Homo sapiens: one gene and its partners. The gene in region 2 interacts genetically with the main gene of each other region. Each region holds a gene or a part of one and is shown on either strand. Other genes may lie near its edges.

Evidence for each region.
Region 1: changes in TOP3A (region 2) and CHEK1 are lethal when combined (synthetic lethality), as found in Homo sapiens cells (one large-scale study listed by BioGRID).
Region 3: changes in TOP3A (region 2) and FH are lethal when combined (synthetic lethality), as found in Homo sapiens cells (one large-scale study listed by BioGRID).
Region 4: changes in TOP3A (region 2) and CDC73 are lethal when combined (synthetic lethality), as found in Homo sapiens cells (one large-scale study listed by BioGRID).

The regions. Positions count from the first base shown.
Region 1 is NC_000011.10:125,650,669-125,659,222, forward strand, and holds the end of CHEK1 (serine/threonine-protein kinase Chk1), read left to right. Parts: intron 1-3,077; coding exon 3,078-3,179; intron 3,180-4,556; coding exon 4,557-4,652; 3' UTR 4,653-6,479; downstream 6,480-8,554. UniProt on the Homo sapiens protein: Serine/threonine-protein kinase which is required for checkpoint-mediated cell cycle arrest and activation of DNA repair in response to the presence of DNA damage or unreplicated DNA.
Region 2 is NC_000017.11:18,279,544-18,287,495, reverse strand, and holds part of TOP3A (DNA topoisomerase 3-alpha), read left to right. Parts: intron 1-1,975; coding exon 1,976-2,089; intron 2,090-2,188; coding exon 2,189-2,354; intron 2,355-4,654; coding exon 4,655-4,798; intron 4,799-6,837; coding exon 6,838-6,960; intron 6,961-7,952. UniProt on the Homo sapiens protein: Releases the supercoiling and torsional tension of DNA introduced during the DNA replication and transcription by transiently cleaving and rejoining one strand of the DNA duplex.
Region 3 is NC_000001.11:241,506,256-241,511,423, reverse strand, and holds part of FH (fumarate hydratase, mitochondrial), read left to right. Parts: intron 1-2,638; coding exon 2,639-2,821; intron 2,822-5,168. UniProt on the Homo sapiens protein: Catalyzes the reversible stereospecific interconversion of fumarate to L-malate. Experiments in other species have demonstrated that specific isoforms of this protein act in defined pathways and favor one direction over the other.
Region 4 is NC_000001.11:193,126,508-193,135,061, forward strand, and holds part of CDC73 (parafibromin), read left to right. Parts: intron 1-3,666; coding exon 3,667-3,736; intron 3,737-8,554.

The DNA of each region.
Region 1 (8,554 bases), on a different chromosome or scaffold from region 2:
GTCTCGAACTCCTGACCTCAGGTGGCTGGGATTACAGGTGTGAGGCACCATGCCCGGCCCTAGTGATTTTTCTTATATAATTTTTTAAAGTTGGTATTGTTTGTCATGCATGGCTGTACAATTTCTGTCCCATTAGTTTTAGTGGTCAGCTAATGATTGGACAGAGATTTCCTTAAATTCTGTATACCAAAAACAAAAAATCTGCAGAGTGTTCTGTATTTGTGTTGGGGCACACCTGCAATACTCAACCAAGAAGTTTACAACGTTGCTTCAGCCTTCGCTATCTGCTTGTGCAAAATGCAAAGTTAGGGCACATGTAGAGCTTAGGGGCCTTCTCAGCTCTTTCCTAAGCATATGTACTGCCCTGGTCATGGGTGTGTCTTTTTAGATTCCCAGGTATATGTTGGACCTTTTCAGAGTCCTATTCCCCAGAAACATCTCACTCCCTAACCTCTTCTTCCAAACTTCTTGGGTAGTCTGTTTGCACCAGTTGCTTTCATTGCTTCAGGCAACAGAGACTAAAGCATTTTCCTGTAAGTGTTTTCAGCAAACGCTACTCAGGAGTAGCTTTAGCACAAGGTGAGTTAGAGTTACAAAGGTGAAATAAAGACAAGCCTCTTTTTTTTTTTTTTTTTTTGAGATGGAGTCTCGCACTGTTGCCCAGTCTGGAGTGCAATGGTGTGATCTCAGCCCACTGCAACCTCTGCATCCCGGGTTCAAGCGATTCTCCTGCCTCAGCCTCCCAAGTAGCTGGGATTACAGGCGCCTGCCACCACACCCTACTAATTTTTGTATTTTTAGTACAGACAGGGTTTCACCATGTTGGTCAGGCTGGTCTTGAACTCCTGACCTCAGGTGATCCACCCACCTCGGCCTCCCCAAGTGTTGGGATTACAGGCATGAGCCACTGTGCCTGGCCAGGACAAGCCTTTTGATCAGGTCATTTTAGAGGGTCAGATCGGCTTAAGATAGTTTGTAAATGAGGTTTATTCTGCTCCCACCTGGACCTATGCCTTAAATATGAACTGTTATTTTCAAGGCTGCTACTGAGTGAGGAGCAGGGGATAAACAGGGTAAGTTAAAATGCCAGAAAGCTCACTGTTCTTACTGCGTTTCACTTGTTTTGAATAAGTTGCTGCAAGCTTTTAGCTAGTTTACAATGTTCTGAAAAAGTTGATTCTGACAGGCTTTGGCAGGTTTTTAAAATTGCTTTTGTGGAGTAATGGACTTCTGGAGTTCTTTTCTCTGCCATTTTCACTGACATCACTCCTTGATTCACTCTCTCTCAGTTCTTGAAGTATTTTCTTTGTCTTTGAAGTTTAAGAGCTTAATTCAGATGTGTTGAGTTGAATATCTTGTATTAATTTTCCCAGAACATAGTGGGTTATTTCAGTGCTGCACAGTCGTGGTATGGTTGTGTGTTTTCATAGTTTCTTGAAGTAAGAATTATTACAAAAACTTTTGTAATTTGGGCTGTGTTTTTTGGGCAAATCTGCTGATCTCGCTCGGGCTTAACTCATCCAGCTGTAGTCATTTGATGTCTTTACTGTGGCTGGTGGTCTAAAACATCCTTACTCCCATATTTGGAGTCTTGGCACTGTCTGTTAGCTGAGTCTTTTCTTTCTGCATCATTCAGCTAGGCTGAGCGTCTTTCCATGCCATAGGAACGTTCTAAAAGACTGAAAGTGGAAGTTGAAGGCCTCTCAAGACCTTTGCCATCTTCTAATTGCCGCTCTAGCTTTTCAGCCACAAGTCAGGCCTTTTTCTTTCTCACATTTTAATAATCTTGTTTTTCCTCCCATTATGTTTTCATCTTTGATTGTTTCTTCTTTCAGTGGTATTTTGGTAAAAGACAGTAAGTTTTGTTGCTATGAGTTCATATACACTCAATCCCTAGGAGCTGCACCCCTGTTGATAGATTGGGTTGGGGACACACATACCCACTGGGAGAAGAGAGACTCTGGAATGAGTGAGATTATCAGCATACTTAATATTACTCCTGTTATGGAGGTAGCCAGCAAATTTTTTTTAATTGATACAATAATTGTAATGTATTCATGGGGTATGTAGTGATGTTTTGATTCATATAATGTATAATGATCAGATCAGGATAATTAGCATATTCATAATTTCAAACATTGTGGGAATGGGAATGTTCAGTGATGGGAATGTTCAGTATCCTTCTAGCAATTTGAAACTCTATTATTGTTAAGTATAGTCATCCTACAGTGGTCTAGAACTTACTCCTATCTAGCTGTAATTTTGTATTCTTTCATGAATCTCTATCTTTCCCTTCCCTCTCCCCTTCCTGGACTCTAGTATCCTCTGTTCTGCCTTCTACTTCTATGAAATTAACAGTTTTTTTGTTTCCACATATGAGTGAGAACATGTGATGTTTAATTTTCTGTTCCTGGCTTATTTCACTTTACATAATGTCCTCCAGTTCCACCCATGTTGCTGCAAATGACAGGATTTCATTCCTTTATATGGCTGAGTAGTATTTCATTGTGTATATATATCATATTATCCTCATCTGTTTGCTTGGCTTTTTGTTTTGTTTTTTTGAGACAGGGTCTCGCTCTGTCGCCCATGCTAGAGTGCAGTGGCGCAATCATAGCTCACTGCAGCTTCAACCTCCTGGGCTCAAGTGACCCTTCTGCCTCAGCCCCCTGAGTAGCTGGGCCTGTAGGCATGCACCACCATGCCCGCTAATTTTTTGGGAATTTTAGTAGAGATGAGGTATCGATATGTTGCCCAGCCTGGTCTGAAGCGATCCTTCTGCTTTGGCCTCCCAAAGTGCTGGATTACAGGCGTGAGCCACAGTGCCTGGCCTACACTCATCTGTTGTTGGATACCTAGGTTGATTCCATATCTTGGCTATTGTGAATAATGCTGTAGGGTTGCAAATTTCTCTTCCATATAATTTCCTTTCCTTTGGATCAGTAGTGGGATTGCTGGAACATATAGGTAGTTTTATTTGTAGTTTTTTGAGAAACTTCTATTCTGTTCTTCATAGTGGGTTTACTAGTTTATTATCTACTCACCCATGTGGCTTAACCTTATTTTTGTTGCCTTAGGTTACTATATCAACAACTGATAGGAGAAACAATAAACTCATTTTCAAAGTGAATTTGTTAGAAATGGATGATAAAATATTGGTTGACTTCCGGCTTTCTAAGGTATTTTTATGTTTTATTGTATTCTTTCTATGGAAATATTTCTATATGAATTTTTTTAATGGCATTATGTTTGTATATATGTGGCATTTGTAAATAGGTTACTTGCTTTTTTCGTTTAATATTATGAGCATGTGTTTTCGTTATCTATTTTTCCCGAACATTGTTTTTTTCAAATGACATTTTCCTTATTATAAAAGTTTTTGCCAGGCGTGGTGGCTCATGCCTGTAATCCCAGCACTTTGGGAGTCCGAGACGGGTGGATCTCGAGGTCAGGAGTTTGAGACCAGCCTGGCCAACATAGTGAAACCCCATCTTTACTAAAAATACAAAAAATTAGCCAGGCGTGGTGGCGGGTGCCTGTAATCCCAGCTACTTGGGAGGCTGAAGCAGGAGAATCATTTGAACCTGGGAGGCGGAGGTTGCAGTGAGCCGAGATGACGCCACTGCACTCCAGTCTGGGTGACAATACAAGAGACTCTGTCTCAAAAAAAAGAAATTTCTGCTTTTGTGAAAAATGTAGATAAGCAAAAAATGAGAAAATAAAAATAATTCTAAATTTTCAGTGATCACATTAATATTTCGAAGCATTTTAATATTTTTCTTAATTTATGTCTTTTAATAAAAATTATGATTTGTTACAAATATTTCATTATAATTTAATGAACCTTTACCAGTTATAATAATTCTGTGATTGCTATTTTATGCATAGATTTTTTTGTTCATATTTCTGATGATTTCTTTAGAAATCATTGATTCTAAGATGATAGTATTACAGCCCTTGATATATAAAACCAAAATAACATTTTTCTCTATTTTCTGAGAGATTGTATGTGGCTCTAAAGAGGGTTGGAGGGGTAGCTGCTGTGTTAGAGCATTTGCCGCAGTACTCTTTGTATTAGAGATTTGCTGCAATACTGTTTTTCAGATGCTTGCTACAGAATTAAATTAAGATCGTAGTATAATGAAATTCTTCTCATAACTAAATCTATTGATTTTGGTCAGTAGTGTTATGACAACAAGACTTCAGTTTAGTTGTATAGTTTATTGTTAGTTTCCAAACCCTCACTGCCTATGGAATGTAATGACTTAGGTCCAGATATACCAACACCTGAAACAGATAGGATGCCATGTTTATCTGCTCTCTGAGCTCAGTGCAGTAGGAACAGTGATGGGCATGAAACCACATCAGAATTATTTGTGTAACAATTTTCTCTTCCAGGATATTTGGTCTTCATAAACAGACCGAAAAGAAAATGGTAGCTAGACATACCTAAAGATGTTTGTCTCTTGTTACCACTACAAAGAGATTGATTTTAGGACAGAATTTTGTTTTTGTTTTTGTTTTGACATAATTTTTTAATACTATTTCTAATATAGGGTGATGGATTGGAGTTCAAGAGACACTTCCTGAAGATTAAAGGGAAGCTGATTGATATTGTGAGCAGCCAGAAGATTTGGCTTCCTGCCACATGATCGGACCATCGGCTCTGGGGAATCCTGGTGAATATAGTGCTGCTATGTTGACATTATTCTTCCTAGAGAAGATTATCCTGTCCTGCAAACTGCAAATAGTAGTTCCTGAAGTGTTCACTTCCCTGTTTATCCAAACATCTTCCAATTTATTTTGTTTGTTCGGCATACAAATAATACCTATATCTTAATTGTAAGCAAAACTTTGGGGAAAGGATGAATAGAATTCATTTGATTATTTCTTCATGTGTGTTTAGTATCTGAATTTGAAACTCATCTGGTGGAAACCAAGTTTCAGGGGACATGAGTTTTCCAGCTTTTATACACACGTATCTCATTTTTATCAAAACATTTTGTTTAATTCAAAAAGTACATATTCCATGTTGATTTAATTCTAAGATGAACCAATAAAGACATAATTCTTGTGACTTTTGGACAGTAGATTTATCAGTCTGTGAAGCGAAGCCAGCTTCAAAACATATCCCCAAGATTTGTACTTATATTTTCAAAAGGGCCTGGCCAGTTATATAAACCTGTTTTTGAATTATAATGATTAATTAAAATTGCAAGTAGGTGTTTTTTCCAGTGTAGTTAGTAAAATACTTGTATTTTACAGTGTTGCATAAACTCTAGTGCTTAACTAACTTTACTCTAAAAATTACTGTTGAACATCTTAAATATTTTTCTATATTTTCTACTTTCATAGCCATATTTTAACCTTTTCAACTTACTGGTGACCAAGCTTTTAGGTGATAAAGAATAAAAGAGGGAAGGGAAGAGTAAGGAAGCTATAAGAAAAATAGATCTGATTCTTTGTTCCTTTACCTGTTAGACTTACAAAAAGTTTGTTTTTCTAATAAAATTTGTATCAACTTTGGGGCATATTAGGTTGAGGCCTTGGCTCCTGCCTGTAGTCCCAGCTACTTAGGAGGCTGAGAGAGGAGGATCGCGTGAACCTGGAAGTTTGAGGCTGTAGTGAGCTATGATTGCACCAGTGCACTCCAGCTTGGATGACAGAGTAAGACCCTACCTCTAATAAAAATTTTTAAAATTGTAAAACATTATAAAATTAATCAGTTATTTTAATCTGAAGCCAAGAACATGTAGAATGTTATGATTAGAGTTTATCACATATTAATGTATACTGGCAAATTGTGTTACTGGAGTATACCCATAGGAGGAATAAATTCAAACCTGTTTTATTTATTTGAACCTATTTACGGTATGCTTAAGAATTGAATCAGTATAAATTCTCAAATATGGGAGAAATTTTGTTCTTGAGAATTATCTGAGTCATTAATATTTTTCAAAAACAGCTCTCACTGACTTGAACCTCTTCTGTAAGCTCTAACCTTTTACCTGCTTTACATTTCCACTTGAATGTCTAGTAGGCATCTCTTGACCAAAAACAGCTTTTGATTCCTGTTCTCCAACCTGTTCCTCTCCTAGTTTTCTCCATCTCAGAAATGTTACTTCCTCTGCAAAGTCTTTCCCTGACTTATCTAAAATAATAACCTCCTCTGTTTGCTGTGGGAATTTGTATAGAATGGTGGGAAAATTTCAAGTTTCATATTTGGATTAGCTCTGACATTTATTTATCTGAACACTGGTAATTGCCTCAGTAAAGACACTGATAATAAGTACCTTTTAGAGTTATTTTAATCTTTAATGCTTTAATGTGTAGGAAGAGTATAGTGTCCTGTTTTGCACAGAAAGGCATTCTGTAAATAATAAGTTGCCTTAATTTTCCTGTAATGTTCATTATATTGTTGTGGGAAGGTATTTACTCCTATTATTAAAAATAAAAATGTGTAAAATTTACTACCTGAAGATAACAGTTCAAATTTTGATGGAAAAATCAACCTATGCTTGTGTGTGTGTGTGTGTGTGTGTGTGTGTGTAATGTGTACAGTGTGTGTGGTTGTTGAGATAAGCATAATTATATAAAAATATGTGTGTGTGTGTTTAATGTGTACAGTGTGTGTGGTTGTTGAGATAAGCATAATTATATAAAAATACATAAAATATGTACACTTCAATGTGCAGTTGTAAAGTTAACATTCACTTAACCACAACTCAATTGTAGAAAGATCATTTACAGACCCTTAAGAACTTCCTATATGCAGTCTCCCAATCACAACCCACTTCTTTCCCCCAGAAATAATCACAAAATAGACTTTGGTGATAATCTTTTCCTTCGTGTGTTTTAGAGTGTTCTCAGCTATTTATGCAAATAATATCATTTAGTTTATGTATTTTTAATTAATATGGTTTTTATTAACGAACTTTATATACATTTTGCTGTATTTTTCATGTGTTGATTTTTTATAGCCATGCTTTTGTGCATATTGAATTCATTAATTTTAATTTTTATATAGGATGTATTTATGAACATCCCACTAACTATTCTGCTGCTAATTGATATTTGGATTGTGTACAGTTCGATGCTATTATAAAATTCTTCTAAGGACATTCTTGTACATGTTCATTTGTTTTGCTAGGTCCTAGAGTCTAAGGTATATATCCAGAAGAGGAATAGCTGGATATTAGGATAGAATAATGACAAACTGTTTTCTAAAGTGATTGTACAGATTAGTGTTTCCATAGGAGAAAAGTGTACAGTTACTGGAAAAACAGTTTGGAATGATCTAAAGCATAAGAATGTTCATAGCAACAGAATGTATTTCTAGTATTCCAAATTTTCACCTACAGTTGGTGTGGTCAGTATAAGTTGTTGTTTTTGTTTTTGTTAATGTTTTTTTTTCCTTTGAGACAGGGCCTCACTTTGCTGCCCAGGCTGGAGAGCAGTGGTACAAACATGACTCACTGCAGCCTTAGCCTTGCAGGCTCAAGCAATCCTCCTGCCTCAGCCTCCCAAGTAACTGGGACCACAGGCACATGCCACCACACCTGGCTAACTTTTGTATTTTTTGTAGAGACAGGGTCTCACCATGTTGCCCAGTCTGGTCTAGTCTGTTTTAACAAGTTGTTGCTGTGTAATGATATATGTGTGGTGTTAATTTGCTTGTTCCTAAGTTTAAATGAGGTAGAGCATTTTATGACATGCCTGTTCTAGTCTTTTGCTTATTTTTCTAATTGCCTTTTCTTTTTCTTAATAATTTCAGTTCTTCATATGTTCAGCATACTAGTCCTTTGTCAATTTACATGTATTGAATATATATACTCTCCCATTCTGCGGCTTATTGTTCCATTCTTCATGAACATTTGTAATTTTAATGTCCTATTTAGACCTTTCCTCTGTCTATTGTTTTATATTTTGTATTAAAGGAGTCATTCATTACTCCAAGATCATGAAGATTTTCTTGTATGTAATCATGTAATCTTCTTAAAAGCTTCATGGCTTTTGCTTTTTTTTTTTTTTTTTTTTTTTTTTAAGAGTCTTGTTGTGTCTCCAAAGCTGGAGTGCAGTGGCACAATCACAGCTCACTGCAGCCTCAGCCTCCCTGGCCCAAGTGATCCTTCCACCTCAGCCTTCTGAGCTGGGACTATAGCCATGCACCACCATGCCCAGCAAATTTTTTATTTTTTGAAGAGACCAGATTTCACTGTGTTGCCGAGGCTGGTTTCGAATGCCTGGGCTCAAGTGATCATCCTGCCTTGGCCTCCCAGAGTGCTGGGATTACAGGTGTGAGCCACCATGTCTGCCTGGCCTGTTTTTTGGCTGATTTAGGTCTATAATTCATCTGAAATTGGCTTTTGTGTAGAATGTGAGGTAGAGATTAGGTTTCATTTTTTTCCTTCATATGGCTATCCAGTTTAGCACTGGTTATTGAAAAGATCATTATTTTTTTTCACTAGTCTTCATTGATATCCAATCAAGTACTCAAATGTTTTAATTATTTTTTATACTTTGTATTGAATCAGATCCAAATAAAGTTTAAACA
Region 2 (7,952 bases):
GGAGTGTAGTGGCACGATTTCAGCTCACTGCAACCTCCGCCTCCCAGGTTCAAGAGATTCTCCTGCCTCAGCCTCCTGAGTAGCTGGGACTACAGGTGCGCATCACTGGCTAATTTTTGTATTTTTAGTAGAGATGGGGTTTCACTGTTAGCTAAGCTGGTCTCGAATTCCTGACCTCAAATGATCCACCCGCCTCGGTCTCCCAAAGTGCTGGGATTATAGGCCTGAGCCACCATGCCCAGCCAGACTTTTTTGTTTTATGTAGGGACAGGGTCTTGCTATGTTGCCTAGTCTGGTCTTGAACTTGCACCCTCAAACTGTCCTCCTACCTCAACCTCCCAAAGTGTTGGGATTACAGGAGTGAGCCACTGCACCTGGCCAGATTTGCCTACTTTAGTTATTTCCTATAAAGAGCCAGGCACAGTGGCTCACACCTGTAATCCCAGCACTTTGGGAGGCCAAGGTGGGCCAATCACTTGAGGTCAGGAGTTCGAGACCAGCTTCACCAACATGGTGAAACACTTTCTCTACTAAAAATGAAAAAATTAGCTGGGCTTGGTGGCAGGCGCCTGTAATCCCAGCTACTCGGGAGGCTGAGGCAAGAGAATCACTTGAACCCGGAAGGCAGAGGTTGCAGTTGATGGACACTTGAGTTGTTTCTACTCTTTGGCTATTATAAATAATCCTGCTGTGAACAGTTTTGTACAAGGTTTTGTGTGGATATGTGTTTTCATTTCTCTTGGGTAGACTTAGGAGTGGGATTGCTGGTTTACTTGGTAACTCTACATTTAACATTTTTAGGAACCACCAAACTTTTCTGAAGTGGCTGTACCGTTTTTCATTTCCACCAGCAAGGCACTAGGATTCCAGTTTATCCACATCCTTACTAACACTTAGTATTATCTCTCTTTTTGATTTTGCCAGTAGGTCTGAACTGCTATTTCACTGGTTTTTTTGGTTGTTTTTTTGTTGTTATTGTTGAGGTGGAGTCTCGCTCTGTTGCCCAGGCTGGAATGCAGTGGCTCGATCTCCGCTCACTGCAGGCTCCGCCTCCCAGGTTCATGCCATTCTTCTGTGTCAGCCTCCTGAGTAGCTGGGACTACAGGTGCCCGCCACCACACCCGGCTAATTTTTTTTTTTTTTTTTTTGTATTTTTAGTAGAGACGGGGTTTCACCGTGTTAGCCAGGATGGTCTTGATCTCCTGACCTCGTGATCTGCCCGCTTCGGCTTCCCAAATTGCTGGGATTACAGGCGTGAGCCACCACGCCCAGCCCTTTTTTTTTTCTTTTTTTTTTTAAAGAGAGTCTCACTCCATCACCCAGGCTGGAGTGCAACGGTGCCATCTCAGCTCGTTGCAGCCTCTGTCTCCTGGGTTCAAGTGATTCTCCTGCCTCAGCCTCCTGAGCAGCTGGGACTACAGGTGCGTGCCGCCACACCCTGCTAATTTTTGTATTTTTGATAGAGACAGGGTTTCAGCATGTTGGCCAGGCTGGTCTCGAACTCCTGACCTCAGATGATCTGCCCACCTTGGCCTCCCAAAATGCTGGGATTACAGGCATAAGCCACTGCTCCCAGCCTTCACTGCAGTTTTAATTTGCATTTCCTTCATGGCAGAGCTACATTTTGAAAGGTCCCTTTGGCCACAGCTTAAAGAATGGTTAGGGTAGAGGAAGAGACTAGAAATAGGGACACAAGCTGCAAGTATGGCTTGGACACATGGGGAAGAGAATTTTTAAAAAGAGCTTTGAAGCTGGAATTGACAGCTTTCCTGAGTAATGGGATGTGAGGGAACAAGAGAGTTGAGGTTGCCATTGTGATTTCTTGAATGAGCTATATGGGAATGAAATGAAGGCATCTTACCTGCATAGGCTGTCCAGGCAAAGGAGGGATTCCGGGGTGAGCAAGGTGCCCATGCGCCACCCGGGTGGAGCTGTTGTCTGTATTACCTCAGAGTAACCAGCAAGTGGCTTCCAGGTACGGATGCCACTCATGCGGAGCACATCGAGACCATCAAAGCCCGGATGTACGTGGGCCTCACCCCAGACAAGCGGTTCCTCCCTGGGCACCTGGGCATGGGACTTGTGGAAGGTAAGGGAGGACAGAGCTTGCAGTGGGTAGTGGGTGGTGTCGCCCAAGTCCCTGAGGGTCTCAGGTGGGCCCTCACTGAGCTCGACTCTCTCCCTGCAGGTTATGATTCCATGGGCTATGAAATGTCTAAGCCTGACCTCCGGGCTGAACTGGAAGCTGATCTGAAGCTGATCTGTGATGGCAAAAAGGACAAATTTGTGGTTCTAAGGCAGCAAGTGCAGAAATACAAGCAGGTTTTCATTGAAGCGGTGGCTAAAGCAAAGAAGTAAGTCCTTAAAAGAAATACAGAGGGGTCTCACTATGTTGCCCAGGCTGGTCTTGAACTCCTGGCCTCAAGAGATCTTCCCACCTCAGCCTCCCAAAGTGTGGGGATTACAGGCGTGAGCCACCGCATCTGGGCCAGTCAGAGTTTATAACCCTGCCAGATTCATCCTCACCAGTGGCCTCCTGGCCTGGAGGTTTTCCACATACCCCTTTTCTTTGGACTTTCTTCTCTGGGTTCTTTTACAACTCTCCATAGAGCTTTGTCAGTATAGAAACAGTAATCGGAACAGTCTCCTTCAGTTATTCTGAACTATTGGCTTTAGAAATACCATTCTCTTGATTTTAATTATCTTTTTTTTTTCTGCTTTAATTACATGACACATTAATTATCTTGAGTTAGGCAACAAAGTCTTTTAAATCAGTAAACCCAAGTGCTGGAGTGTGATCCATTTGTTTTCTGGAGCATTTAGAGGTGGATATTTAGCAAGCAGCATGTGTGTATTTTGTTAGAAATGATGTGTTTTCTACCTGTGATATTATGATTTATAATAAGATATATATATTTGGACTTCATTTTCTGATACCCTTGGAATTTTTTAAGTGCTGTGTCTGTTGTATACAAATGAGATGACTAGTGGCCAAGGGCTCCTGGGTAGCCTTGGGATCGGTCTGGTTGTCAGGGAACCAACCCTGTGATTAGAAGGTTGGGACTTTGAGTCCCACCCCTACCTCAGGAAGAGCAGAGGGGCTGGAGGTTGAGTTGATCACACGTGGCCAGTGATTTGTCAATCATGCCTAAGTAATAAATCCTCCATAAAATCCCCAAACAAGGGTCAGGCACGGTGGCTCACGCCTGTAATCCCAGCACTTTGGGAGGCCGAGGCGGGTAGATCACAAGGTCAGGAGTTCAAGACCAGCCTGGCCAACACAGTGAAACCCCTTTCTCTGCTAAAAAAAAAAAAAAAAAATACAAAAATTAGCCAGGCATGGTGGTGCGTACCTGTAGTCCCAGCTACCTGGGAGGCTGAGGCAGGAGAACTGCTTGAACCCGGAAGGTGGAGGTTGCAATGAGCCGAGATTGCCCCACTGCAGTCCAGCTTGGGCAACAGAGTGAGACTTCTTCAACAACAACAAAAACAAATCAAACAATTGGGTTTGGGGCACATCCAAATAGCTAAACAGGTAAAGACTCCTGGAGGGTGGGTGTTTGGGAGAGGGCATGGAAGCTACCCCTTCCCCACATCCCTTGCCCTGTGCATTGCTTCCATCTGGGTATTCACCTGGATCCTTTGTAATTAACGGGTAAGCATAAGTAAAGTGTTTCCCTGAGCTCTGTGAGCCACTCTATTGAGAATCAAACCAAGGAGGGGGTCTGAGGAACCCCAGTTTATAGCCAGTCAGTCAGAAGCACAGGTCACAGCCTGGGATTTGTGACTGACATCTGAGGGAATTTGGGGCAGCAGTCTTCTGGGACTGAGCCCTTAACCGTTAGATGGATCTCCAGGTGCATAGTGTCAGAATTGAATTGAATTAGAGGATGTCCAACTGGTGTGTGGCGGGAGAGTTGCTTGGTGTATGGGGAAAACTCCCATACATCTGGTGTCTGATGTGTGTTGTGAGACTGTAATAGAAGATAACAGTTTGTTATTTTCTGTTCTTTAGAGTACCCCATGCCAGTTGTGAAAAGGCAGGCATGAGCTAGTTTAGACTTAATACAGACAGACACTCCTGGAGTTTGTACATGGACCCTGTGCAGTTTTACTTTTTTTTTTTGAGATGGAGTTTCGCTCTTGTTGCCCAGGCTAGGGTGCAATGGCGTGATCTTGGCTCACCACAACCTCTGCCTCCTGGGTTCAAGCGATTCTCCTGCCTCAGCCTCCTGAGTAGCTTGGATTACAGGCATGCGCCACCATGCCTGGCTAATTTTGTATTTTTAGTAGAGACGGGGTTTCACCATGTTGGTCAGGCTGGTCTCGAAATTACAACCTCAGGTGATCCGCCCGCCTCGGCCTGGGATTACAGGCGTGAGCCACCACATTTGGCCCAGTTTTACTTTTTAATGTGGGCTGGTGACAAGCAGAAGCATCTGCCTGTATCTGGACTCTCCTCCCAAGAGTTGGTTCGGCACCAGGGCCCATGGTGAGCTCAGTCTTCTGTCTGCCGTCTGTTCTCTGCAGGAGGCCTGCGGCTCACTGACCAGCTGGTTCTCAAGGTCACGCCTGTTGTGTGCATGTAAGAGTGTTGTAGGTGCCTTTGCAGCGATTGCTGGCTGATGGGTGTCTGTCTTTGCCTTTTCTTCAGATTGGACGAGGCCTTGGCCCAGTACTTTGGGAATGGGACAGAGTTGGCCCAGCAAGAAGATATCTACCCAGCCATGCCAGAGCCCATCAGGAAGTGCCCACAGTGCAACAAGGACATGGTCCTTAAGACCAAGAAGAATGGCGGGTGAGTGCGCTGCCTTCTGCCCCCACCTCTGCTCCCCAGCACCTGCGGTGTCAGCCGTAGCTCGAAAGACCCTGCCATTTCACTCCATGGAATCTTTCAAGACAGGCCTGTTGTTGCCAACCTGCAGGCAAGGTGTTGGCCTAAAAGCATAGCAGGGTGGGATCAGGCCTTTGAGGTGTAAAGCACTATGGGAATTCAGAGCAGGTGAGAAACTGAATGATAGTGGGGTTTTTTTGTCCCCTGTGGATAGGACATCATATACCCAATGTGTAACACATGGAGGAGCATGAGCTTCAGATCTAGGTGGGTCTGGGTTCAAATGCCACTTATGCCGCATATAAGTGGTGTGGCCTGAAGCAAGTTACTTACCTGCTCTGAACCCCAATTTCTTCTTTTATAAAATGTCAGTACTTACAAGGCTGTGTTAAGGGTGAGGATTTGGTGAAAATGGTCAGGACTATATAGCACATTGCCTGATGTGTTGTAGATACTCAGCAGATACTACTTTTGTTCTCTCCTAGTTTTAGTTCTGAATGGGGCCTGAAAATCTCAACTCCCTTTTCGCTTTAAATATAGTAGATCTGAGTGGGCAATTTAGCTTCACATCAGGTTGTTGGAGCCAGTGGCTGGCCACTGGAGGAAGTTCACGGGGAAAGACGAGGTGGAGGGGTGGCAGCCATCATTCATCAGGTGCCGTCCCTCACTGGTGTAATGCAGGGTGGTGCTCTGTAAGCATTACCTCATCCCATTCTCCTAACTACCCTGCAAGGCAGGGATTTTTATGCAGCTTAGAGGGCTGAGGTGCTTGCTTGGAGTCAAGCAGCCGTGGTGGGCAGCAGAGTTTGAAACCGGGTTTTCACTGCCTTTTTCCATCCTGCCTGGCCCACCTGGGACTGCTGTGCTCCTTGCTGCTGAATAAGAAAGGAGGTTTCTCAACTCCTCACCTCCAGCCATCATTAACCTGGCTGGCCCAAGTGAAGAGAAGGCCACCCAGGCTCTCAGAAACAAGAGGTCTATGGGCCAGACCTGGAAGCAGGTGTCAGGGCTCGCGTCACTCACAGACAGAAGCCAGTGCCACTCTAGGCTTAGCCCAATGACTGGGCGTATATTTCAGCACTTAATAAATGCTGTCGATGGGTTTTCCTTGCTATCGGTAGGTTATTGGATTAGTACTCATTGGAATATAAGGAGAGAGAATAACTACTTTTGTTTTAGCTCTGAATTCTCCAATTCTCTGAATTGGAGAATTATTATTATTCTTTAGTTATTCGTTTGTTCTTCTGTTATTCTTTTGTAATGCTTCTCTGAGTTACTCCAGAAGGTCAGGAGATTATCTTGTGGGATTTGCCACTCCATGATTTATCTGTTAATTTCCATTTCTGAGATTGTAAATTTCTTATTTAAATGATTGGAGTTCGGGGCTTTTTTTTCCTTCATAGTGTACCCAGGCACACTCATGAGGAATTTGTAAATCACATGCATATTAGCTAGTCAAACCCTAACGTTTCATGACTGCAAGGTGTTGAAAAACATTGGCCAGGAGAGACCGGGATGGGATGGATGGGCAGTGGGTGGGGTGTAGATGTTGCAGGTGAGGCTTTGTCACAAACAGATGGGTTTCCATTCCTGGCTCCCATCCACACATGCATGCATGTCTCTGGGCAGGTTTCCAGGCCACACCAAGCCACTGTTTACTCACATGCAAACTGAGGGGGCCCCTGACACTGCCCAGACTTGGCACGAGGCAGAAAGGCAAGAATGTGTGAGTGCACAGCACAGAGCCCCTGGCGTCAGCTTGGTTGGTTGTTGGTTTTCTAAATAGAAAGCAGGGCCAGCAATAGCTGCTTTGTGCTTTTGGGATGTGAGAAGGCTCATTTTTCCCAATCAATTCAATATGAGTGCTTGTGTATCCAGTTAAGTGTCATCCAGAAAAGGGAATGTTGTCCTCGGGCAGCTGAGGAAAGGCTGCCTTAGCTGATGGCCAACAGCGGAGAGCATCTCCTGCACTCCTATCATCTGACATGGCACTTTGTCCCCAGGTTCTACCTCAGCTGCATGGGTTTCCCAGAGTGTCGCTCAGCTGTGTGGCTTCCTGACTCGGTGCTGGAGGCCAGCAGGGACAGCAGTGTGTGTCCAGTTTGTCAGCCACACCCTGTGTACAGGTGAGCTGGGCACCTGAGTCAGGTGCCTCCTCTGGAGTGTGTACACCATCTTTCCCTTGCTCCTGCCAGAACCCAGAGAGGAGTGTCGGGGATTCCACTCAGGCCCTGCAGGGGCGTAGCTGTGTTCTGCAGCAGCCAGTTCAGCAGGGCTGGTCCAGTTCTGTTGTGTTCCATGCTGTCACTGCTTTGGCAGGTATGACCCTGTTTGGAGTGGGCCATGGGCAAAGAACCATGAAGGGCTCTTTCCCTGCCCTCTCCAGATAGATGATTGCTACACCAGGCTTAGGAAATTATTCACATATTAAATACAACATCCAAGCTTGGGCTACGTAGCAAGACCCCATCTCTTTAAAAAAAAAAATTTTTATTTAAAAAAAAATTTTTTTTAAGACAGTCTCGCTGGGTTGCCCAGGCTGAAGTGCAGTGGCGCAGTCTTGACTCACTGCAACCTCCGCCTTCTGGGTTGAAGTGATTCTTCTGCCTCAGCGTCCTGAGTAGCTGGGATTACAGGCATGCACCACTATGCCTGACCACTTTTTGTATTTTTAGTAGAGACAGGGTTTCACCATGTTGGCCAGGCTGGTCTCGAACTCCTGGCCCCAAGTGATCCACCCACCTTGGCCTCCCAAAGTGCTGGGATTATAGATGTGAGCCACTGCACCTGGCCAAAAAAAATTTTAAATTAGCCAGATGTGGTGACATATGCCTATAGGCCAAGCTGGTCAGGAGGCTGAGGCAGGAGGATCGCTTGATCCTAGAGGTCTAGGCTGTAGTGAGCCATGATTTCACCACTGCTCTCCAGCCTGGAATGACAGAGCCAGACCCTGTCTCTAGAAATAAATGAATAGGCCGAGCCTGGTGGCTCAGGCCTGTAATCCCAGCATTTTGGGAGGCCGAGACAGGCGGATCACGAGGACAGGAGATCGAGACCATCCTGGCTAACATGGTGAGACACTGTCTCTACTAAAAATACAAAAAATGGCCAGGCGTGG
Region 3 (5,168 bases), on a different chromosome or scaffold from region 2:
TTGTCTCAGTCCTTTGGGGCTGCAGTAATAAAATACAATAGACTGACTGGCTTATAAACAATAGAAGAAGTTAATTTGTCACAGTTCTGGCAGCTAGAAGTCCGAGGTCAGGCCACTGGCCAATTCATTGGCTTGGTGGGGGCCCACTTTTTGGTTTGTAGATGGCCATCTTTTCTGTGTCCTCACATGGTAGAAGGGACAAGGGAGCTCTCTGGGGTCTCTTCGTAAGGACACTAATTCCGTTCATGAGAGCTTTGCCCTATGAACTAATCACCTTGCAAAGGCCGCATCTCCTAATACTATTACCCTAGGGGTTAGGATTTCACATAGCAGTGACCTTGACACTTTGAAAGCAGTGGTCAGGTATTTTGTAGAATGTCCCTCAATTCTGGTGTGTCTGACGTTTTCTCATTAGATTGAGACTTTTGAATTTTTGAGAAAACTATCACAGAAATAAAGGGCCCTTCTCATTGCATCATATCAGGGGTTCATGATAGCAACATGACTTTTACTGGTGATGTTAACCTTAATCACTTGGTTAAGCTGGTACTTGCCAGGTTTCTCCATGGTAAAATTATAATTTTTCCTCTTCTATACCCTGTTCATTAGAAATAGGTCACTAAACCCTGCCTGCATTCCAGGCACTGTATTTCAGTTTCTAGAGGGAGGAGTATCAAAAAGTTTTTGGGCTTACATTAAAATCACTGTAGTAATTAATAGCGCGCTACCTTGAGGCTAGGCAAACATCTTCTTTTTCCTTAAACTTTTTCCTACTATTTTTAGCATTCATCAGGGAATCTTATCTACAGCAATTACTTCCATGGTGTTTTAATAGTGATTTTCAGTTTTCTTTATTCATTCTACACTTGTTAGTTGAATTTTTCTGCAAGGAAGATTTGTTCTCTCTGTCCCATTTATTTATTTATTCAGTTATTTGGGTATATCAGTATGGACTGATGGTTATTTATTTTATTCTTCAGGTTATGATCCCATACTTTTGTTTATATTGTTGCTTAAATTCTTTCAGCTCTGGGAACCCAATTCATTTGGCTCTTGTGTCCTTTTAGGCATGCCACCATCCTTTTACTTTTCTGAAGTGTGTTCCGACTTCCTGGTACTTTAAGATGCTCCAAGCTCATTGTCTTGTATTGTTTCTGCCCCAGCCCTAGAAACAGCCATTTTTCAAGGAACTGTTGGAGAATTCTTATTGGAAAATGATATTTAGAAACTGAGATCTGGGTGCTAAGTATAATTTAATATATTTTTAAGTAGTAAGGAAGAAGTGTTTTTAATACACGTTCATTGTATAAGGGATTTTCCCAATCTAATACTTGCCTTTATGAATTTATGTTCTATATATACTGAAGTCTGAAGTCTGCCTCAGAAAGGTAGAGTTATAGATGAAACGTGATTGGCTACATGTTGATAATTATGTAAACTATTTGAATTCAGGTGACAGGTACATAAGTGTTTATTATACCATTCATCCTACTTCTTTCGTAAGTACTTTATATTTTGCATAGTAAACGTCAAAATATATAAATAATGTATCTTTTTAAATGACAGTATACTTTTATATATATCTGTGTGTGTGCATGCGTGTGTGTGTGTGTGTGTGTGTGTGTGTGTGTGTGTGTGTGTGTGTTTAGAGATTGTGCTTCACTCTGTCACCCAGGCTGGAGTGCAGTAGAGTGAGCATAGCTCACTGCAGCCTGGAAATGCTGAGCTCCAGGGATCCTCATGCCTTAGCTTCCTGAGCAAGTGGGACCATAGGCATGCACCGCCATGCCTGGCTAACTTTAAAAATGTTTTCAGAGACAGGGTATTGCTCTGTGTTGCCCAGGCTGGTCTTAAACTCCTGGCCTCAATTGATCCTCCTGCCTCAGCCTCTGAAAGTGCTGAGGTTATAGGCATGAGCCACTGCACCCAGCTTGATATTATGTTTTAAAAGTACAGGGTCAACAGTTGAGGAAAGAGCACTGAGTATATACTACCTGGCTAGGTCTCAGGTTTGCCAGTTGCTAAATATTTTGGCATTTATACAGTCTCTTTGAGGGCTTGGCTTTCCTATTTTTAAAGTGGTAATCTACCTCACAGAATTTTTCTAAACTTAATAAAGAGCTGTTTATGAAAGACTGTATGCACTGTATAATTGTAAGATATTCAATTATAAGATTTTATAAGAATATATAATTCAATAATTGATGTAATTTGATATAATTATAAGATATTCAACTACATTGAAGATACTACTGCTGTCTTCAAGTGCAGTTGTTAACTATACTTCTCTGTATTTTGCTGTCATTTATTAGCAGGCAGATATAATACGTAATACATAATATAATACATAATATATTATATAATACATAATATAATATAATACGTAATACATATATAATACATAATACATTCAGTATACTTAATGTGTATAATACAGTTCTGAGTATGTGTTAGAAACCAGGATGCTGCTTATTTGATTCTATAATAACTCACCTATGACATGCCACACATACATGTAACTGAGCTGGGTTTTGAGTAGTTAGTTGGAGAGTTTTTTAATTGAGAAGTTTAATTCAGAAGTTTGTTTTTGTTGCCTCTGATTTAACATTTTATATTTCTTTTGAAAAATTTCCAACAGAGCTCAAATGATACTTTTCCCACAGCAATGCACATTGCTGCTGCAATAGAAGTTCATGAAGTACTGTTACCAGGACTACAGAAGTTACATGATGCTCTTGATGCAAAATCCAAAGAGTTTGCACAGATCATCAAGATTGGACGTACTCATACTCAGGATGCTGTTCCACTTACTCTTGGGCAGGTATAGGAGTTTGACTAATTTGATTCAATTTAGAGCTTGGTACAAATGGCCAATGTGTCATCCTTGAAATCTGACTAGCTTAAAAGGCCAAATTTGTAACCGGAAACTTCAGTGACAGAGGTTGTTCTGTTCAACCAATCAGTAATTTTCATTGACATCCACTTAGAAGAAAAGCAGAGTATACTGGCTATAAGTCAGATTCAGTCAGACTGCTCGGGTTCAAATCTTAGCTTTGCTGTGTACAAGCTATGGGACCATAGGAAAGTCATTTAGCCTTTCTGTGCCTCAGTTTTCTGAGCTACAAAATGAGGAAAATAATTTCCCTTTCATAGGATAGTTGTGAAGCTCTAGTAAGTTGATTTATGTAGAGTGCTTAGAAGCATGCCTGGCACACAGTAAGTACCCATTCATGTTAGCTACCATCATCACCACCGTCATCGCTGTCATCTCCATCAGTATCATCATGGTTTTTCTTTTGTCTTTCTTACCTAAATTAGTAGGTTATTTAAAATTTAATCTCAAAGTGATTAAATAAGGTAGATCTTTTTAAGATGGATCTGGCCGCATGTGAAGGAGATACTACTCTCTTCTCCAAGATATTAGAAAGTATTTTCATGTTTCTTTTTCAATGCCTTAAGGAATATCTAATAGTATACATTGTGAAGGAAATGTAAGGAAATACAGGGAATGACTTTTGTCTTAGTAAACTCACACTCCAATTGGGGTAGCTTAATTTCCTTATGGAAGGAATGAGGAAAACTTGAAATGAGTAATTGAAAAACAAATGATGGGACTAAATTGAACTCACTGGATTGAGTTGCTTCTTAAGGCTGTGTCTCATTTCTCTTTGCATCATTAGTACTTAGGACCATGCATAATTTCTAAGGAGGAACAGTATGTATGTTTTGAAACTTTTGAATATTTCTCAAGTTTCTAATTTTAACCTTTTTTTGGTGTTGAAAACTACAATACTAAATACCATTTGGGCCATGACTCAGCCTCCTGTGTAAAATCATCATTCTTCCTGTTAAGACAGAAAATTACATTTTTCTGTTTGACTTTATCAGAAGCATTTATACTTGCTTTTATTGGGATTGTCTTTTGAGTTCGTGCATTGTTCCCTGTCAAAGTGTATTTTATAAGTGAATCTATCTAGTGTGTTTGTGTGTGTGTGTATACATACAGTCATGTGTTGCTTAGCAATGGGGGTATGTTCTGAAAAATGCATCCTTAGGCAATTTCATAGTTATGTGAACATCACAGAGTATACTCACACAAACCTAGATGGTATAGCCTTCTATACACCTAGGCTATATGGCATAGCCTTTTCCTCCTAGGCTACAAATCTGTGCAGCATGTTACTGCATTGGATACAATAGGCAATCGTAACACAATGGTAAGTATTTGTGTATCTAAACATATCTAAATGTAGAAAAGGTACAGTAAAAATACGGTTTTATAATCTTAGGGTCCCACTGTTTATGTGATCTTTCGTTGGCTGAAACATCATTATGTGGTGCGTGACTGTATATGAGTGATGTTATATCAGATGCATCAGGTCTACCTATAATGAGTTATATCTTTTGAAATGTTTTCTTTAGAACAGTATGGCATCCTGTCACTTATGGTTTTTTAGTGTTTTCAGGCAGGAAAAAAGGATAGATTTAGTGTAACCATGTATCTTGGTTTGTCCAGTTAACTCCCAGTGTATGCCTTTTGTTTCTGCATGACTATTAATAGAGCCCTTTCTGTGTTCAAAACATAAATTCTGTGGTTGCTTTAATTAAGGCATGTCAAAATTTGGAACCAGTGTTGACATTGGCACATTGATGCTATGATCTGACTCTACCGTTACCTCCTATTCTTTTTGGAAGGTCCTTCAATGCAAACTGTTACCTTCCTGTGCTATTCAGTGAGTCATTAGCTTCCCAAGTCTCTGTAGAATGTCTTCATATTTCCTGGTAGGTTTATACACTGAAATTGTATGGAGAATATTTCTATGTTTGCATTTTTTTGGGGGAGATGAGTTACTATTTTTTCTTACACCAAAGTTGTCTGAGGCATCCCAAAAAATAAGAAATCACTTCAGTTTCTTTAGTAGACTGCAAGTAAACCAATAATTTAGTGTAGTAAAGTTGTTCTTTTTAAAGTGTATTTCCTGTGCTGTTTTTCTTTGCTTCCTATTAAAAGACTAGATTATAATAAATAGGCTGCATGTTATCAGTGGCATTGTCGTACCTTATGGTTCTATAAACCCTCATCCTTCCCTATACTTTGCTCATCATAAGATTTGAAGTAGTATAAATAAAACTTGATTAGCTTGTAATTTAGTATTCTGAAAGGTATT
Region 4 (8,554 bases), on a different chromosome or scaffold from region 2:
GTATGACATGGAAAAGTACTATAATGCCCACATAAAATGGCCTAAAAGATATTTAATTTTTTTAAATGAGCTTTTCCCTCAGATTATTTTTGGTAGAGTTGAACATAAAATTTTTTGAAGATATAATTGAAATAATTAAATGTCTGCTTTTAATATTTGTTGCTTTTGCTTACAAGTATACACTTAAAATTAAGTATGAAATGTATTTATAAATAACTACTTTTTCCCATTTCTTATAGTTCTTAAAACAATCTTCTTAAACTTTTCTTATAGTTCTTAAAACAATTTTTTAAAATATCACTGTGTCTGTCATCACTGGAGCTGCTTTTTGAGTTACCTAACACCGTTGCTGGATCACATTAAGCTGTGTGAAACTTAACTTCTATAACTCTAACCTCCCTCCCAACTAGAAATAGTTAAGGTTTCTGGCTTATGTATCTTTCAAACAATAACTTGTTGTCTAAAGCAACTAAAAGCCAGGTGTGGTGGTGCATGCCTGTAGTCCCAGCACTTTGGGAGGCTGAGCTCAAGTGGGAGGATCACTTGAGCTCAGGAGTTCAAGACCAACCTGGGCAACATAGGGAAACTTTGTTAAAACAAAAAATAAAAAAAATTAGTCAGGCGTGGTAGTGTGCACCTATACTCCCAGCTGGCTACTCAAGGGGCTGAGGTGGGAGGATCACTTGGGCCCAGGAGGTTGAGGCTGCAGTAAGCCATGATCACACCAATGCATCTATCCTGGGTGATAGAGCAAAGACTCTGTCTCAGGGAAAAAAAAAAAATGTGTGTGTGTGTGTGTGTGTGTGTGTGATTATAGCAATTGAGAAAGTATCCCGTCACTTAGTGGGCTTTGTATTAAACCATAAGGCTTCTGCTTTCCTGAGTAAGAAATATATATTTATGTTACATATTTAAAAAAATAAAATTAGAGTGGGACTACTTGGGAAAATAAGGGGAAAAAAATAGCACCAGCTCCGTCTTTAAGGTTATTTTAACTCAGATCTTTAAAAACTAAATTAGGTAGTTCTTACAGTGTTTTGTTGGATATATTCATTTTAGTGTAACAAAGATTCAGATAGTTGGCTTAGATTTATAGATTCTGTTTTTGGGAAATGGTTGTGCATATAACTGATAGCTGTAATTGTTACTGTGGACCTTGGGACCCTTGGTTGCATAAGATTTAACTCATTTTTCATAAGTATTTGCCAGATTGAAAGAGTAGGATTCTAAAATTCCAAAATTCTATGAATTCGAGATTGTTGTCTCCTAATTACTTTGTGTTATTTGCTCTTTCCTGTGCGCAGACCACTCATTTTTTTTTTTTTTTTTTTTGAGTGCAGTGGCGTGATCTCGGCTCACTGCAACCTCCGCCTCCTGGGTTCAAGGGATTCTCCTGCCTCAGCCTCCCAAGTAGCTAGAATTACAGGCACACGCCACCATGCCTGGCTAATTTTTGTATTTTTAGTAGAGACGGGGGTTCACCACGTTAGCCAGGTTGGTCTTGATTTCCTGACCTCGCGATCCGCCCGCCTCGACCTCCCAAAGTGTTGGGATTACAGGCGTGAGCCACTGCGTCCGGCTGAGCAGACCACTCTGAAAACAGATTCCTGATCCTTAGTTCCTATTTTAGTGTGAGTAGATGTAATCTTTTTCAGTGGATTGTGATGTGTACATAACTCAGTAGTGACCAAATGATGATGTAAGTTATTAGACTTAGAAACAGTAACTTAAAATTAACTCAAATCTTTTAACTGTTTATGATATTCCATATAGACTGGTTTATTTTTATTTTTTATTTTTTTTTGAGACAGAGTCTTGCTCTGTCACCCAGGCTGGAGTGCAGTGGCAGGATCTTGGCTTGCCACAGCCTTACCCTCCCGGGCTCAAGTTGTCTTCCTCCTTCAGCCTCCTGAGTAGCTGGGAGTATAGCTGGGACTGCAGGCGCTTGCCACCATGCCTGGCTAACTTTTATATTTTTGTAGAGTTGGAGTTTTTCCATGTTGCTCAGGCTGGTCTCGAACTCCTGGGCTCCAGCAATCCACCCACTTTGGCCTCCCAGAGTGTTAGGATTACAGGCATGAACCACCATGCCTGGCCTAGGCTGGTTTAAAAGAATACAAGCACAAAAAAACTCTGCACTCAAATTTTTAAACTCATAAGGAGAAACTAAAATTTAGCTTGACCTTTTTAAAATAAAAGGTTAATTTTTAAGTGATTAAATACAGTTTATCTAAATCATTGAGGAGTCAGTGCAGAATGTTTGGTGCAGTAAATTATAATAAGTATTCAATATAAGGTCATTGGCCAAAGATACTAAAGGTTCTTGTTGTTACTTCATTGTTACACATATAAAGTGACAAAGGATTTAAACTGAAATCTGTTAGCTACCAATTTTTCTTGCACTGTTTGTTTGTGTTTCAGACTGGGTCTCGCCTCAGTCTCCTGAGTAGCTGGGATTATAGGCTTCTGCCATCACGCCCGGCTAATTTTTTTTTTTTTTTTTTTTTTGAGACAGTGTCTCACTCTGTCACCCAGGCTGGAGTACAGTGGCGTGATCTCGGCTTACTGCAACCTCTGCCGCCCAGGTTCAAGCGATTCTCTTGCCTCAGCCTCCCGAGTAGCAGGGACTGCAGGTGCCTGTCACCGCGCCTAGCTAATTTTTGTAGTTTTAGTAGAGATGGGGTTTTACCATCTTGCTCAGGCTGGTCTTGAACTCCCGACCTCATGATCCACCCGTCTCGACCTCCCAAAGTGCTGGGATTACAGGTGTGAGCCACTGCGCCCTGCCTAATTTTTGTGTTTTTAGTAGAGATGGAGTTTGACCATGTTGGCCAGGCTGGTCTTGAACTCATGACCTCAAGGGATGCGCCCGCCTTGGCCTCCCGCAGTGCTGGGATTACAGGTGTGGGCCACTGTGCCTGGTCATTGCTTTATTTCTAATGATTATTTTCTGTATATCTTCCTGGAATTTCAAAAAGAAATTTATTTATTTATTTATTTATTTATTTATTTATTTAGAGACGGAATCTCTCTATGTTGCCCAGGCCGGAGTGCAGTGGTGCAGTCTCGGCTCACTGAAACGCCTGTCTCCGCCTCCTGGGTTCCAGTGATTCTCCTGCCTCAGCTTCCTGAGCAGCTGGGATTACAAGCATGCTTCACCACACCCAGCTAATTTTTGTCTTTTTAGTAGAGACGGGGTGTTGCCATGTTGGCCAGGCTGGTCTTTAACTCCTGACCTCAGGTGATCCACCCACCTCAGCCTCCCAAAGTGCTGGGATTCTAGGTGTGAGCCACCGCGCCCAGCCAAGAAAATTATTAAAAGTAACATGTTTAATACATTTTCAGGATTTTTATTAGGTTCTTTTAGCCTAGTCATTTTGTTCAAATGTGATTTAAAATATATTGTATCAAGATATATTGGAATAAAATTCAGACATTACATGTTAATATCAAGTTGTAAGAAAATTATTAAAAGTAACTAACATGTTTAATAAATTTTCAGGATTTTTATTAGGTTCTTTTAGCCTAGTCATTTTTTACAAATGTGATTTAAAATACGTTTTTTCAAGATATGTTGGAATAAAATTCAGACATTACATGTTAATATTTATTAAGTTGTGTATCATTGTTATTCATTTCATATCTCATTTAAAATTTTGGTTTTAGACTGAAAATATTCCTGTGGTTAGAAGACCTGATCGAAAAGATCTACTTGGATATCTCAATGGTGAAGCGTGTGAGTACTTTTTAAATTGTTCCCAGTCTTAAACAGACATTGTTTCTTTTTTCCCCTATGAAATAATGATTAGAGGGAAGAGAATTTGTATTTCCACCAAAAAATTAACCTACCTTCATTTTTGTCCATGTGCTCACCTTTTTCTTATACAGTGGATGCACTGTCTTTGCCCTTATGGCCAGTCACCCCTTCCTTGTGTGTGGATTCCATCTCCTTTCACAGTCTCAAAGACTTTGTCTTCGTAAATTGTTGTTTCTCTGACATCATCAGTTTTCTACTTTCTTCTGGATCATTCCCTTTTAGAATACCTACAGTAAGATTTCATGTTTAAAAAATGTTTTTGATCCCACATTCCTACTGTCTACTGCTTCATTTATCTCCTCCCTGATACTGTAAAATATTCTGCAAGAGTTCGTGTGGTATCATTGCTTCTTTTTTACCTTTGTTTCTTTCTTGAAGCCACTCTAGTCTGGCCTTCATCCTTACCATCCCACTAAAATCACTCCTTGTAAGGTCAAAACTGATTTAAGGATTGCTACATCCTTTGGTCTCTTGTACCATACTTGACCTCTCAACAGCATTTGATACTGTTGACCACTCATTTTTGAAAGCCTTTCTTCATTTGGCATTTGGAACACCAGCCTCTTGGTTCTCTTTCTACTCGTTGTTCACCTCTCAGTTTATTTTGGTTACTTCTGTACCTGACCTCTAATTCTTGAAGTTTCCAAGACTTGATCTTTTTTTTTATCTTTTCTTTTAACCTGTATTCTCTAGGTGATCTCTTTCAGTTTTATGGCTCAGATATCATATATATGCTGATGAAATTTCAAGTGTTTTTTTCAGCATTGATTTCTTTCAGGGCACCAGATTTATAAATTTACTGTCAACATGTTTCCTTGAATGTTGAATAGGCATCTGAAATTTAACACTGAAAATGGAATGCCTGATTCCCTCTTTCCCTTCTGCCCTCACACAGAACAAAAACAAGTCTGTTGTTTTCTCAGTGTTCCCACTTTAGTAAGGGGTAGTGAGACGCTCTTCCTGCAGTTGCTTAGGCCAGAACTTTGGTGACATCTTTGTCACATCTCACATCCATTCTATCAACAAGTTGTTTTTTTCTCTTTTTAAAAGTATGACAACTTCTTACCATTCTACCTGCCCTATTTCATCCTTGCTTTTTAGATTATTGTATAGCTTCCTCACAGGTCCCCACTCTTTATTTCCTATAGTGTAGTCTTAGCAATAGAGTGTCCTGCTTTTGAAAAAGTATATAAACTTGATTGTGTCACTCACCTGTGGCTTCCCATCACTCTTAGAATAAAACTCATACTTGTTACCCTGGCAGTCATCTTGCCTCTGCCTAAATCTCTGTGACTCCATCTTCTACCATTCTTCCTTTGCTCATAACAGTCAGTCTTTTTGGTCTTTTAGCTATGCTAATCTTAGCACCTTTGCACTTTCTCTTTCTATCTTGAGTTGTCTTTCTCTACATTATCACATGGCTCACTTGCTTACTATTTCATTTAGATCTGTGCTCAAGTGTTTTTCCAAATGTTGTTCCATCAGAGAAGACTTCTCTGACCACTCTTATCGAAAATATAGTATTCCTTTCCTCCTTCTGTGGTTTTTATATAGTGCCATCCTGATTTATTTTTCACCAGATCTCATACATTGACCTGAAATTATATATCTGTTTATGTACATAGTGTCTGTCTTTCCCATTAGAAGGTAAATCCTAAGGGGACAGACAGTTGTTTGTCTTGTTAAATACCCAGCATTTACAATAGTGGTGCATGGTAGGTTCTTAACTGAATAAATGAGTAATTATTAATTTACTCTCTTACAGAGTACAAGTACATTGATATAATACAACTATTGGGTCTTACTTTGCTGAGTGTGACGTGTAGTACCTTTAAGTCATTAACAGCTGTCTTGTCATGCATGGCTTTAAGCAGTAAGATTGATTTCCACAGAGAATCTTGTGTATAATGGAAAGATCATCATTAGGAATGCTTTCTTCCTATGCTGTCCTCATTCAATAAGGACTTATTACGTGCTTATTCTTAAAAGGCATTATGCTGGGTGTTGTGCAAAATGCCAAATCCCTGTCTTAAACATGTAAACATGTTTACTGTCATGCAAGGGAGACTGGATACACAAAAGTTTAGAACCCAGCAGTATTAAAGAGGGAGTCTCAATTCTGTGAAGAGGATGGAGTTGGGGAGGATAGAAGAAACTTTTTTTTTTCTTTCAGAGATGGGGTCTCGCTACATTGTTCAGGCTGGTCTTGAACTCTTGGGCTCAAGCAGTCCTCCTCCCTTGGCCTCCCAAAGTGTTGGGATTGCAGGCATGAGCCACTGTGCCCAGCCATTTTTTTTTTTTTTAATCAAAGCAAATTTGATTCTTTGGAGCAGTGTTTCTCTAACTTTTTAAGTGATGAGAATCATATGGTTTGAAAATAGTGGTTTTTTTTGTTTGTTTGTTTTTGGCTTCAGAAGATGTGATATAAGGTCTAAGATTCTCTATTCTTAAGCATCGCAGGTGAGCCTGATAAATAGGCTAGTTTTGGGGAAGCACTTTAGAGCAAATGATTTTTCTTTTTAGAATCAAAAGTAGAGTTGCCCTTTATCCATCTATGTCATTTCCTGTAGATTTTTTTTTTTTTTTTTTTTTTTGAGAAGGAATCTTGCTCTGTCGCCCCAGGCTGGAGTGCAGTGGCGCGATCTTGGCTCACTGCAAGCTCCGCCTCCCGGGTGCATGCCATTCTTCTGCCTCAGCCTCCTGAGTAGCTGGGACTACAGGCGCCTGCCACCACGCCTGGCTAACTTTTTGTATTTTTAGTAGAGACCGGGTTTCACTGTGTTAGCCAGGATGGTATCTATCTCCTGACCTTGTGATCTGCCTGCCTCGGCCTCCCAAAGTGCTGGGATTACAGGTGTGAGCCACCGCGCCTGGCAGTTTTTATAGGACAGAGTTAGTCACTAAGCGTATTGCTTTGCCACTTTTTAAAAACTGTTAATTTAATAGTTTAATGAAAAGGTTGAGCAAATATTAAGACCGTATTCTTAGGAAGACATAATAGCTAAAGATGTTGGTTCTTAATTTATACATTTAACATGGTCTCAATAAGAATCTCTAGTTTTTCTTGAGGTAGGAATAGAACTAGACAAGGTGATTCTAAAGTTCATTGGCAAAAGTAAGCATCCTAAAAATTTGTAGAAGAGCATTGAGAAAAGGCTAGTCATTCTGGAGAACTTAAAACCCTGATAATTTGAAACAACTAAATGACTAGATACACTAATAAAAAAACTTTATCTGTTAGGTTAGAAATCTATATGTGAATTTAACATATGATTAAAGAGACATGTCAAGTCAATGGGAGGAAGGTGGGATTATTCAGTTACAAGCTGATAAAAGTAGTAAAGTTCTGTATTATAAAAAACAAAAGACATGACAAACTGGGAAAATATGTTAATATTTCAACTCATCACAGATAAAGGGCTAATCTCACTAATATACGAAGGGTCCTGGAACTTTATGCATAAAAGACCAAACACTCTATGGATTATGTCATAAAATTCACAGAAAAGGTGATAAAATCATGAAAAATGCTTAATATCATTTATAATAAGAGAATTGCAAATTTAAACTATACGGAGATAGGATTTTTTTTTTTTTAACCTGATAGAAAAAAATCTGTAAGTTTGATAATATGCTCTGGTGAAGCAATGAGAAAACAGATATTCTACTATATTGTTGGTTATAATGTTAATCAGTGCACCCCTACACCCCCATTGAAGAATTGGCAGCAGTCTAACATTACAAATTTAACATAGAAATCCTGTGTCTGGAACTTTATCCTAGAGGTATATTTCGTTTAGCTTTTTTACCAGTTGTGAATAACTAAAAATTACATGTGTAGGGTGAATGCTAACTTTAAAAAAACTTGCCATTATATATAATATCTATATGTACATTTATATATTTATGAAAACTTGTGACTTTATATTAATATATTATTGTGCCATTGTTCGTAACAACAGAAGACTAAAATTGAACAGCTCATCAACAGGGACCTAGTTAAATAAATTGTAGTTAGGCCATACAGTAGAGTACTCAGTAGCTATAAAAAAATGGTTAAAGAGGGCCGGGCACAGTGGCTCACACCTGTAATCCCAGCACTTTGGGAGGCCGAGGCGGGCGGATCACGAGGTCAGGAGATCGAGACCATTCTGGCTAACATGGTGAAACCCCGTCTCTACTAAAAATACAAAAAAATTAGCCGGGCGTGGTGGCATGTGCCTGTAGTCCCAGCTACTCGGGAGGCTGAGGCAGGAAAATGGCGTGAACCCAGGAGGTGGAGCTTGCAGTAAGCCAGGATCGCCACTGCACTCCAGCCTGGGTGACAGAGCGAGACTCCGTCTCAAAAAAAAAGTAAAGGAAATGCTCTACTTACTGATATGGAGGGTTATGGGAGATAAGTTGTTAGGTAAAAAAGAAAACAGGGTTCAGAACAGTATGTTTAGTATGTCACCTTTTGTATTAAAAAGGGTAAAAATAATTTTGTATTTCTCATATCTACAGAAAGAAACTCTAGAAGGATATATAAGAGACTAGTTGGCTGCATAGGGTGGTGGGAACTAGGTGAATGGGGACAGGTATACCCCTTTTTGTTGAGCCATTCAAAAATTAAGTAATTTAATTTTAAAAATAATTTAGTTTTTTACCAGTTGTGAATAACTAAAAATTGCATGTTTAGGGTGAATGCTAACTTAAAAAAAATCTTGTCCATATATATGTGTGTGTATGTGTGTGTGT